Regions from separate parts of the Homo sapiens genome. Here all the other regions are reported to be linked to region 1. Evidence: microRNA targets listed by miRTarBase, many of them from high-throughput screens and not tested one by one. Region 1 holds a microRNA gene; each other region holds the end of a gene's coding sequence.
Evidence for each region. Region 1 holds the annotated microRNA hsa-miR-577 (UAGAUAAAAUAUUGGUACCUG, at 2,974-2,994, opposite strand). A microRNA usually pairs through its seed, bases 2 to 8, with sites in the 3' UTR of a target mRNA and lowers its output. Matches are read on the target gene's strand: a 7mer-m8 pairs with bases 2 to 8, a 7mer-A1 pairs with bases 2 to 7 and ends in A, and an 8mer does both.

Region 2: the mRNA of PGRMC1 is a reported target of hsa-miR-577. Seed matches in the 3' UTR shown: 8mer at 3,222-3,229.
Region 3: the mRNA of ZFYVE21 is a reported target of hsa-miR-577. Seed matches in the 3' UTR shown: 7mer-A1 at 623-629.

The regions. Positions count from the first base shown.
Region 1 is chr4:114,655,620-114,659,767 of GRCh38, reverse strand. It overlaps MIR577 (microRNA 577), which reads right to left and starts at 3,009; the gene lies at 2,914-3,009. All of the region lies in intron 2 of UGT8 (UDP glycosyltransferase 8), which reads right to left.
Region 2 is chrX:119,242,920-119,246,919 of GRCh38, reverse strand. It overlaps PGRMC1 (progesterone receptor membrane component 1), which reads right to left. Exons shown (of 3, transcript NM_006667.5): 3 at 2,454-3,769. The coding sequence ends at 3,666. It also overlaps the pseudogene AKAP17BP. Among named protein-coding and RNA genes, the nearest start is that of PGRMC1, 8.6 kb to the right of the region's middle.
Region 3 is chr14:103,732,549-103,736,548 of GRCh38, forward strand. It overlaps ZFYVE21 (zinc finger FYVE-type containing 21), which reads left to right. Exons shown (of 7, transcript NM_024071.4): 6 at 72-214; 7 at 435-1,116. The coding sequence ends at 470. PPP1R13B (protein phosphatase 1 regulatory subunit 13B) reads right to left here. Exons shown (of 17, transcript NM_015316.3): 16 at 3,455-3,654; 17 at 647-2,647. The coding sequence ends at 2,606. Among named protein-coding and RNA genes, the nearest start is that of ZFYVE21, 19 kb to the left of the region's middle.

The sequences.
Region 1 (4,148 bases):
CCCATCTTTTTTGGTAACTCATCAATGGCCATTTACTACCAGTACTACTACTTCTTAAGTAAGTTATGAATATTTGTGGATAAGGTACAGAATAAGCCTTCCATTTCACTCAATACAGGAATTTAGAAATTGCATCGTCTTGTACGTAGACCAGCACTGCATGCACATTTCTCCACTAGATGGCAGGACAGGAATGGAGCGACATCTGGGCTCAACCTGCTTACATGCCCAATCCCGGACTACTTCTATGGGTATAGGGGAAAAACTGACATCTTCAAATTGAAAAGAAAATGATCACAATAAGGGACCAAATACTGAACCAGAAATCAGCAACACTCATAGGCACTCCCCTCACTATATCAGAATGAATAATTCCATTCCTATGCAACTTAAGTAACAGATATCTATAAAGTAATTTTGTTTATAGCTATAAAGTAATTTTCTATGTCTTTTGAAAAGACAACCTTACAATAAAAATAATCATTTTATCTTCTTGTAGGATTAAGTCATCTGTTTGAAGTCTTTTATGGGAAAAGGTAGCATAATAAGGAAATATGGATAATATACATTCTATTTCCTATAATCAGATGCTATATGTTAAGTATTTGCATTTATTTTAATGATCGTGATCCGGATAGACACTGATTTGTTTCTAGTATTGCCAGATTTCTTATCCTAGAGTAATTATATACCAAATGCCTTGACTGGACCACAGGAAGAATGTAGTGAGGGGCTTGTTGTCCTCCCATGTCCCTCCATGTGGTACTGTCCAGCTTAAGCCGGTAAAGCAGCCTGGCTCTGTGAGGCTGGAGATGGGGCAGAACAGAAGCTAAGCAATGTACCAGAGTCAGACTCGGGGAGCAACTACTCCCAAAGTATAAAATTTTCATTATTTTCAGGTAATGTTTTGATATTAGGGATGTCAAACAATGGAAGATGGTGAAAAAATATTCAAAGAAGTGGAAAGCAAGATCTTGAAACTTTTAAAGAAGACACTCATTGGGTAATGCCTTCTTAAAAATATACTCATCCCCCTATCCGAAAATAAACAATTTTTTTTTATTCATTGTGGCCAATGTAAAACACATCCCAATGCAAGAAAATTGTAAGTAGCTTCTTAAAAAATGAGCTTCAGAAACAGTGCAAGTATAATTAAAAGTTGAACGGTGCAAGCCCACCTCCATCCTTGCTATCCTGGATTCTGAGGACATCAGAGTCTTTTAGACCTCTAGAGAGGATAACAGGTCTGAGGTGTGGGGACACACTAGGCTGTCATGTTTGCACTCCAGATCTCTCCTGATACCAGCCTGCAACCCAAACCCACTCTTTTCTCTCCTCCAAGAATGGGAGCCTTGAGAAGGGGCCAGCACAGTAGAGAAACCTATAACACTGCATCCTTTGTTGGCCCCATCCATTCTGAGGAAAAGAATGCCTGGACTGTGAGAGAATCCTACACAGAGATGATAATGGGAGATGAGGGGGGTGGGTGTTGGAGTTCCTTTTCTTATTCCCAACACCAACATCAATAGGCCTCTTTTCCCATTTAATATTTCTGATACAAAGAATGCTCTGCTTTGGTCAGGTGGGTTGCAAAGAATTTCATTCTGCAAAATTTAGTAGGTAAAATGATAGTGAACATTTTGATAGCAAATGCTCTTAAAAAAATCTTGGGATATCAAATGTGATCTCTGACTACTGCTAATATAGTTAACCAAGACTTATTAAACAACAACAACAAACAACACTGAAAATATAAAGGTCACCATTCAAAATAAAAATGCACCAATCATTGTTTTCACTGATTTGTTTGGCAAGAGGCTTGCTTCAAACCCCAATTCCACAATTTGCTGTATGATCTTAATGATGCCACCTATTCTCTCTGAGGCCCAGCTTCCTCATCTCTAAAAACACTTACGATACTTTACAAGCACACTGCAGAGATTAAATGAGATTAAATATATAAAAGTGCTTTGTCAACTAAAAATTATGCTGTTCTCTTCCCTGGCCATGATATCTGATAAGTAATACACAGATTATGGACTGAAATGATATCCACATTGAGAAAAGGAAAAAAAAAAAGGTCATTCTGCACCAAGATATTTTCTCTCAGTTGTATTTGTTCACTATGTTTTGGACTTTTCAGAATAAAGTTGTTTAAAATACATAAATGAAAAGTAGTACCAAAAATGTTCACATGCAGCATCAAATCTAGTTTTCAGTTTTTCAGAAAACTCAAATGATTTCCCAGATCATCTAGAAGGGTATAAACTACAATTACGCTACAGAAGCAATAGAGAGATCAATGTCAAGGCAATGGTTCTATTTTTAAAATCTCAAAAGATGCCTTCAACACAGTGAAAGTTCAGGAGAATGAAATAAGCACCCAGAAGGGTGTATTCATTTCCACTGAGATTCTGCAGTATCGGTTTTTCTTCATTGTGAGCTTGATTAATTTTGCCAGTACAGTTACAATTAAAATAAGTAAGCAAAATTTGAAACCCTGATTTGACTTTGAAAAGTTAAATTTTCAAGGTTCTTAAGACCTTCAAGGAACTGAACACAAGCAGCAGGGACATCCCGAGGATATGATGATGGCAAGGTACTGAGGAGATATGGAAAGTAACCACGAGATAGAAAAAAAGGACAAAAATAATAAACGGAGGTGAAACTCTCACCAGAAAAAAAAAATCACTACGGAAATGATATCTAAATCTTTCTTACGTTACAAAAGAAATTTGATTAATGGACTTGGAAACCCACCTAATTTCTGGGTCACTATTTGATAAATGATTATTTGATAGCCATGACCAGCTGCTATGTACCATATCTGACACTTGGGACATATCAAAGAATAAATAAACAAAATGTTCTGTCTTCAGAGAGTTTATATTTTTTAATGAGGCCGTACCTACAGTAAGTAGATATGGGGAAATGAAGAGCAGATAAAGTATTGAAACCTGGCCTCAGATTCATCAGGTACCAATATTTTATCTACTCTTCACTCCCCCAAATACAGCCTGCCTTGGGTGCCTGAAACTTCCCCCTCAGGTCACAGTTATTTACCAAGATCACAACAAAGTATCTCCTCTATTGTTCTCCCCTGTGAGACCTGTTCTTTCAACAGGGCACCTACCACACTTCTTGTAGCATGTGAGTTTATTCACAAGACTTTTCTTCTCCTAGGTGTAAGATGCAGTAGGTGCTCAATACTTATTTCTTTTAATAAATCAAGAAAGCTAATAGTAATCTAAGTCTTTGAAAGGATAAACAGCAAGTACACTGCTTTATTTTGCCATTCAGTTAACAGGATAAATAACACTGTCGTTTCCCTAGAACTTTAAACAAATTATTGAGCACTTTAAAGAAATGTCTCCTTTCAAAAATCAAGCTTAGCTACTAAATTATGTGACCTACATAAACAAAAGAAAGGCAGTCTTGCTAGCTAATCTGTCTGCCTCCTTTCTTTCCAGAAAAAAAAACAAAAACAAAAAGAAAACACTCAATTTTTTTCATGATAATCAGTATTATGCCATAAAGACACAGAGACTGATGAGAAATATTTACATAGCTTCCAATTCTGACTACCAAGTAAAATTAGTAATGTGACAGCAAAGAAGTCTTGTAAGTAACACCTTAATCAAACGATTAAAGTGGACATCATCAATAATGAAGCAAGTCAAAATCACGTACCACCTAATCAGATGCAACATGCAGAATATAGCATCCCTTCTGTGATATTCCTGTAAGGATGCAAAACCTGAATCCAATTATGAGGAACAAATGATAAACCCAAATTGAGGGACATTCTATACAACAGGCCGATATCCTTCAACAACATCAAAACAATGAGAATCTAAGAAACACTGAGTAAGTGTTCAAGAAGGAGCCTAAAGACATAGCAAATAAAGGCCACTGATAATTCTGAACTGGATCCTTTCCTTATTAAGGACATTATTAGTGGCTCTCACAAAACTTCATTGAGGTGTAAAACTTAGATGGTAGTAATATATCATTGTTAATTTCCTTATTTTTATGGTTTGTATTGTGATTATGCAGAAAAATGCCCTCATGTGCACAAAATATATATCAATGTTTTGGAGGGTGACAGGGTATCATATAGAAATCTTATTGTCAGATGGTTCTGGTAA
Region 2 (4,000 bases), not on the chromosome of region 1:
CATATCTTTTTCTATGTCCTATTAAGGGCCTGAGCTTTAAACTTTGTCTTAAGGTATTTTCATGTTTTTCTTATGAGTTGTTGGTAGTTATGCAAAAAAACTAAAAATATGTCAATGTGCTTTCAATTTGTTTAAATTTCTCAGGTAGAAAGCCATGTAACCTGGTAATTTTGAAAATAAGAATCAAATAAACTTATTTTTACTTGTTGCAAAATTGTTTAAAATAGTCATTTTTAAATAAATGCTGATAAGTCCACCTTTGGGGGAAAGTTCCTACTTACAGTATGCTGCTTTGCACTAATGTTGCTGATCTCTTTTCTCATTTGCATTGTTAGAGAATACATATTTGTCAGATATATTAAAAATAAAATTATCATAGTGAATATTCTTTGTTCATTTATCACATGTATTGGCTAGCATGTTGCACATCCACAATAACATTTTCTGTGGAAATATAGATGCCTAATTTTAATATCATTTCTATGCAACTTTTCCCATTTTGTGGAAACTGACATTGTCAGAGTTCATGGGACTAAAGACCATAGTTTTATTTTCATTTTGGACAAACCGAAATAATGTTATTTAGATTTAAGATGATCCTCCCTTTAGCACATTTTATCAGTGCTAATAAGAGGTAGCAAAATTGACTCCATGGAATTTCACCTAATTCCTTCAGCCCTGGGTGGAAGTGTTCAAGTTATACAATGTGCAAAAACAATTATGGGTTTGGGATGGACAGTCTAGTCAGAGAAGGTAGGGGCCTCAATAATCAGTCTTTGACCATTCAAGAGTTAACTGTATTTTCATGTGAAATATACAGCAAACTGCCTCTAAGTATCATAACAAAGGCAGACTACCTTGGAGTAAAATCTGGGCACTTTAGAGCTGAAAGCGTCCGTCAGGTTCAAAGAGCTCTTTCTGAAACAGCAAGAAATGTATTGATGCTTGTTCTTGATCTAGGATTTGCATAAATTTGGCCCTCTGAAGTAAGGTGAATGTTACATTATGCAGGGAAGCCAGATATGCAGATACTGAAAACACGTAGTAAATGCTGCTTATGAACCACAGACGCTAGTTGAGAACAAACTGTCTCTGCAGCTGGTAGGATGACAGCAGGTGGGGAGCAAGCCAGATGTTAACCTAACACCTCCCTCCTTCACTGGACATGTGGTGGTTGTAACAACTACCCCCCCTCCCCCCGACACCACCATCTTCTTGAATGGTGCCTTTTACATGAATATGGCTTATGTATATGCTAGCTGGATTTGAGAAGTTTTTAGATCAAAGTCCTGCCTTACAGCAATATTCCTTTCCAAGTAACCAACACAATGTTGATTCAGCTCTGAATGGAAGAGAATCAGGTTATTGGGAGTGAAACTTTAGTGAGGCTCTAAATCAGGGGTGCCTAATCTCTTCGCTTCCCTGGGCCACATTGGAAGAACTGTCTTAGGCCACACATAAAATACACTAACACTAACGAGAGCTGATGAGCTAAAAAAAAAAAAAAAATTGCAAAAAAAACCTCATGTTTTAAGAAAGTTTACAAATTTGTGTTGAGCTACATTCAAAGCTTTCCTGGGCCGCATGCAGCCCGTGGGCCATGGGTTGGACAAGCTTGCTCTGGATATTTTCCTCTTGGCAGCAGACAAGCCTGTTTAACTTTGCAAAATGAGTAGCCTAATCTTCACATGCACATGAGATTTCAGGCTGCGAAGGTGGGCCCAACTTCTCTCCCCCACTCCTTCTCCAAAGCATAAGGCATAACAGGTTACATGGCACAAAACAGGCACTCAAACATTTGGTGAATGAAACCAAGTGGGAAAAAAAAAGAGCACATTAAAAAAAACTCACAAGTACCTGCAATGTGGTTTGATAACATGAAAAATGGAAATTTCTTTGGTTCAGGAAGTATATCTCTTATAAGAAAACTCTGCCAATGTTAACATTAAAATGACAAAACACTAATAGGTTGTCTTTGTTTATACAACTGACTGCATATGCAAATCTGTTATGCTTCTTTTGACACGAGGTGAATTAACTTTGCTACTGTAAGGATTCCTGATACTTTCCTGATCAGACAATACATTAACACAAAAAAACCCAAACCCTTCCTTAGCACTTGGCAATGACAATGCCTTCAGTAACCTTACTTCTTAAGAACCTTGCTATAGACTTCAAGGTGGAGGTCTGCCATTTACAGTTTAGAAAGTTCTGATTTAGGCAAAACTTTGACAAGTCACAAAAAAAGCAATTCAATTCACTATTTCTTAAACAGGACAAGCTGGTATTTGGTTTTTGGTGTGGGGTCTCCATGAAATTTTGCCCCTTGTTTCTTTTGGAATACAAAAACTCTGCACTCAAAAATGAAACTGAATTTTAAGCCAAAGTAAAATGTCTGAATCAGATTCCCTAGAATAAGGTTTTTAAAAAAATTTAAATAAGTCACCACACTATAGTGGGTAAAACCATTTTTATTAACTGACCAAAGCACATCATTTTGTTTTCTGATTTGAGGTAAAATCATAAAACACAGTTCACAAGAAAATACAATGACTATTTAACCACAATTACAAGTTTGAAATCTCACTAGGTGTTCATATACTTTTACAAATTCATACAACTGTATAGTCTACTTAAGCTTAGTGTTAACCAAAAGAGCAATATCAAAGACCTAGACACTTGACTACTACTTTTGCAGTGGGTATAGTTTTATAACAACAGAATAACTGTTACCTTATGAATATACTTTACTTTAAAAACCACTTGACTAGCGACTGTACTGTTTCCTCGTGGTTCAGGGGTGTGCATGAAGGCTCTTAGGAGAGCAAACACCTGTTCCTATTCTGTATGTCCCTCCCTCATTTCAAATGAGAGTAACCAATTGAGTAAAATAACCAAATAACCATTGCCCCACCATGAACATGGGGCTTGGGAAGACAGTCCTACAATCTTCATCATATATTTAGGTTTTTAGGCCAGCCAGCTCTTTTTTTCCAAAGCTTTCTTTTGAATGTTCAGATCCTATTTTAATCCTAACTATAGACTACTGTGTTTGTGAGGGTGTCTGAGTGTCTATGTGAGGGCAAGGACAACAGTGCAGTCCAGAAACACAGAAAATATGCTTTTTTGCAGCTGAGCTCTGTTTTGAGATTTCATTTTGTTACTGGACAGCGCTTAATCCATACCAAAGTCTTTGGAACACTGCAGATTTGCTTTAGAGGTAGATAAAACAGAAATCATGCAGTTAAGTCAATTGAGAAAAAAAAAGGGATTTGTTGTCTTTACAGAACATCATGACTAAAAGTTGATCCTTTGCTCTTGGTGCACATTTAAGATTTTTACCTGTTTTGGGAAATACCCAAGTCTTCCTTGTCTCTCAGGAAAAACACATTTAAATTCATCCTGTACTAACTACAGATAGAAGAAAAACAGTATTAACATGTGTATTACAGCACTGCAGTTCACTTTCTGGATTTGTGACACACAAACACATCATGCATTCTAAGAAGTTAATTTTATTAGTGTCACTAGTGATGTTAATTAAAAAACTTATAGCAAGTGCTCAAAACTTTCTAAATATTGTAATCACTATGTTTTAAAGACAGAGTGGACTGTTACAAATGATTTTGCAAAATACAAAAATAGATATACTTCCACTGAATGCTTTAATCATTTTTCCGGGCACTCTCATCTTTTGGTTCTTCCTCATCTGAGTACACAGTGGGCTCCTCCCCCTCCTTCAGCAGTTTGCCCACGTGATGATACTTGACTGGAGGTAGAGAAGAAAACACAAATGGTCATTCTCATTCTTTCTAAAACATCATTACCACGTTTCAATTTAAAGCATTTATTAGAGGCCTGCAATATACTCAGCAATGTGTTGGGCTTCTTGAAGGATACAAAGGTGGTTTATACCACCGTCCTTGCCAACAGGGAATTTGTTTTGTTCAGAAGACAGACATATAAAACAGGTGGCAACGTCTGGCAATGAGTGTGCAAG
Region 3 (4,000 bases), not on the chromosome of region 1:
CCTTGGGGCTGGTGGCCGCCTGGGCACTCAGGGCCTCCTTTGGGCCGTCTTACCTCGTCTCTCTCCTCCAGGAGGCAACGCACGGGCCACAGGCATGTTCCTGCAGTATACAGTGCCGGGGACGGAGGGTGTGACCCAGCTGAAGCTGACAGTGGTGGAGGACGTGACTGTGGGCAGGAGGCAGGCGGTGGCGTGGCTAGTGGCCATGCACAAGGTACCTGAGCCCAGGCCAGGGAGGCTGGGCCCTTTGGCTTAGACAAAAGCTTGCCTTTCCCAGAGGAAGCTCTGTGTCCTGCCATTTGCCCCCTATCCCCACAACCTGTTCCCCCTCAGCTGGGGTGCCCACGCCATCTCCCCTGAAATGCACACAGGCTTGGCTCCACCAGGCACAGGACCAAGCAGGCCTCACTGTGTTGATCTTGTCTGATCTGCAGGCTGCCAAGCTCCTCTATGAATCTCGGGACCAGTAACTCTACGTGGGGCTGAGCTTGGAGTACGTGTGGTCACCAGGACTGAGTCGCTTGGAACAGCAGAGCCTGCTCCTTGCGTACCACAGGGATTAATCCTGCTTGTGCTGGGAAATGCAACTCACTCATGTATTTGGAGAAACAGGAGTGTTCACTTATCTAGTGCAATATGTTCACAGTTTATTAATGCTTTAAACAGCTTCATGTTTTAGAATTTGTGTATTGTCAATACTTAATTGGGGGTGGGAGAGACTGAGCTACACTACTGCTAAACTATTTTTAGCATAATATATACCATTTTTATGAGTTCGCAGGTCTACTAGAAGGTTCTGGCCCATCAATATTCATTTCATTTAATTCTTCCACAGAACCAGTTTGGGCAGTAGGAACTCAGGCTTCTGGTCTGCAGTGGAGCCTGTTCGCCTCTAATAGCCAGTTTACAGCACTTGCCTTAGCCTGTTTCACAGACTTGTCCACTTACCTTGTCACTAATTTGGGGCTTCTGGGCTGTGAGTGATCCTTTGATACTTCACCAAGGGGAACGTGGGGGCTTTGTGTTTTGTACTTTTCACTCACTATTTCACTTTATTAAGATGACTGTACAGCAATTTGTATATAAAGCTTATGATTAAAAACTATTTTGAACATACGGACAAGGCCTCGCCTTCCTGTGTCCAGATCACCTGAACCCTCGTGCCACAGCGCAGTCTGGGTCCAGAAAGAAGACTCACAGCCGCCGGGGTGAGACGGGTTTATTGTGCACATTTACACAGCGTCAGCAGCGTCTGGGCTGGCAGCGGCCATGCTCCTGTGGTCGGGCTGCTCTACAAGGGCGTTCACTTTTCTTCACCACACTATGTACAGTCAGTGCTCCAAGGTGATGGGCTACAGTGCTGCATCAGTGAGTCTGTACACACATTTTTACATAAATTACACACGACTCATACATGAAAAATAGAGCCTAAGGGCCTGTATTTTAATGAGAAAAAAAAAATTTCCAACATAGTTCGGGTAGCTTTGAATGGTCTAGTCAAAAAATACTTTTGGTATATAAAAAGCCTGTACGTACAATTCACACCTCAGTGAAGCGCCCTCCTTGCCTTGAGGCTGGGCCTGGGACAAAGGTGGCCTCACAGCCAGCCCAGGCAGGGAGATCGGCAGAGAGGGGTGGCCCCTGACCCCAGCTCCTCTGCCCCAGCTGCTGCTCCTTGGTGGCGGCCCCTCCTGACACCAGGCGTCTGCCATCCTTCAGGCACCAAACAGCCCCGTCTACCTGGCCCTGGTCTGCCCTCACACCAGTCCACCCCCAGCCCCAACCCCAACCACCCTCCGCTGCCACGGCCTCCAGCACCTGACTCCATTCAGGGAACTGAATTTGAGCTTGCAGGGGTGAGAACCACACTGAGCAGCATGACAGGCTGTGAGATCGGAGGAGAAGAGTATATGCTGAGGCTCTCCCAGTTGTCACTTGGTCTTAGGGGTCCTGGTGCCCGTGGCGCGGCAGTCCAGCCACAGTGCTGGGCCTGCACAATCAGCCTTTAGGTGAACTGGAACAGGAAGCGGAACCCCCAAGGCGGCCGAGCAGAGTGGGTACTGGGAGGCATACACACTGGGCAGCAACACTGGACATGTTTCCATACAGAGGCTCCTTTGGTGATGAAGGGAAGAAGGATCATGTGTGGGAAGTGTGAGAAAGGATGAGTGTCCGATTCGGTGACGGGGGGCAGGGCGGTCGCAGGGGAGCAGGCCTCACAGCGGCGGACAGTGTTCACTGCTGGAGGGGGTGATGGCCTCGGGGCCAAGTCAGTAAGAGCTTCTGTCTTCACTGGCAACCAACCGGGGGTTATGGGACTTCTTAATGGCAAGAGGGGTGGGTGTTTTGAAAGTGGGTATTTATTTGGATTTATAGTAATTGGCAAAATTCAGTCCTTGGAGGCGAAAGTACCTCTCCCAGTTAATGGGCAAACTGGAGAAAGGGCCTCACCTGGAAACTGTAGGATTCACATTGTGGACGCTGTCTGCTAAAGTGAGCACCATTAAGACCATTTTCTAGCTGCAGCTTTCCTGGAAAACAGCACAATAATCTCTTAAGTGGCTCCTGGTAGCTGGCAAGACCATGCGGTGCTCCAAAAGGAAGTTCAGGCGAGTGTTCGCTGTCGGGGTTTGATCCGTGGATACAGCTGGGAAGCAACGGAGCCGCGTCAGGACAGGAAGCCACACACAGGGAGCAGGGCCAGCCAGACCCGACCCCTGCTCCTCACCTCAGCCACCCTGGACAGCCGTGCAGCACCCTTGTCCCTCAGGCCTACGCTCAGCTGCACCTCTACACTGAGACCCACCCAGCCCTCTTTAAAATGTGCCTTGTACCCCCAGAATATCCTATTTTTCTCACAACACTTCATGCCACCTAAAGACTTGTGACTGCCTGTGGCTCTCAAGGTCATAAGCTCCCCTGGGCAAGGGTCTCTGCCTGGCTCCCTGCTGTGTTTGCCTGGCCAAGAACGTTGGCTCAACAGCAAGCCCCTGGCAGCTCTGCAGGGCACAAAGAGAGCAGAGGCAGCTCCCTCTGCCAGAGGACTGAGGGAATCACAAGTCCAACACAGAGCTAGCAGCCTGCACGTTCCCACCTCTCCCTCCACTGGAGAAATTTCTAGGCTGCAGAGATTTCTAGATTGGGGAAAGTGTGGGTGGGCTGAGCCGGGCCACTTGGTGAAGTTCATCATGAACCGAGCTCATTGAGCGGCCCCTCACTGGGGCACTCAGCCTCCGCACGGGCCTCCATGGCATAAGCATGGCTGGGGGAACCTCCTGGGGCCCTGCCTGAGCCTCATGCCAGCTCTGCCAAGTAGGCACCTCCCCCTCTACAGAGGGGGCTGCTGAGGCTCAGAGAAGCGAAGCCTCCCTCCCCAGCCCCACAGCAGGATAGGACCGCATGCTGTACAGAGACACGGGCAGCTAGTTTCCCAGTAAGTAACCTGAGTGCTCACCCCCAGCAGGTTTTTGGGCACATAGCCCTCCCGGTCTCCAAGGCGAGCCCACCACCACTCAGTCTCGCTTTCGTCCTTGCGCCTCAGGATGGTGAGGGCGTCCCCTTCGTGGAAGGACAGCTCGTCACTGTTCTGGGCCTCGTAGTCCCACAGAGCATACGCCACACCTTTGTTCATCACACCCAGCTTTTCCTGCACCCCTGGAGCCAGAGAGCAATGGTCAGGCCTCAGCAGAGGGTGGCCTGCAGCAAGGGACCCTGCTCGAGGAACAGGACACAGTCGTGCTGCTGCCGAGGCTGCTCTCAGCAGGCCCCACAGAGGCCAGCGAGGGAGATGAGACACTATTGAAGACTAGGGCCCCCACCCGATACCTCCCCTGCCCGGCCCAGCTGCTGCTCCTGCTGCCGGCCCTTTCTAAGTCCTGCAGGACAGACAGGACAAACGAGCTCCTGAGCCCCAGGGCAAGAGTGTGCTGTTCTTAAGGTGACGCTTAGCAATCACAGCCAGAACAGATTTCTAAAGTCACTAGCTAGAGCAGCTGTGACT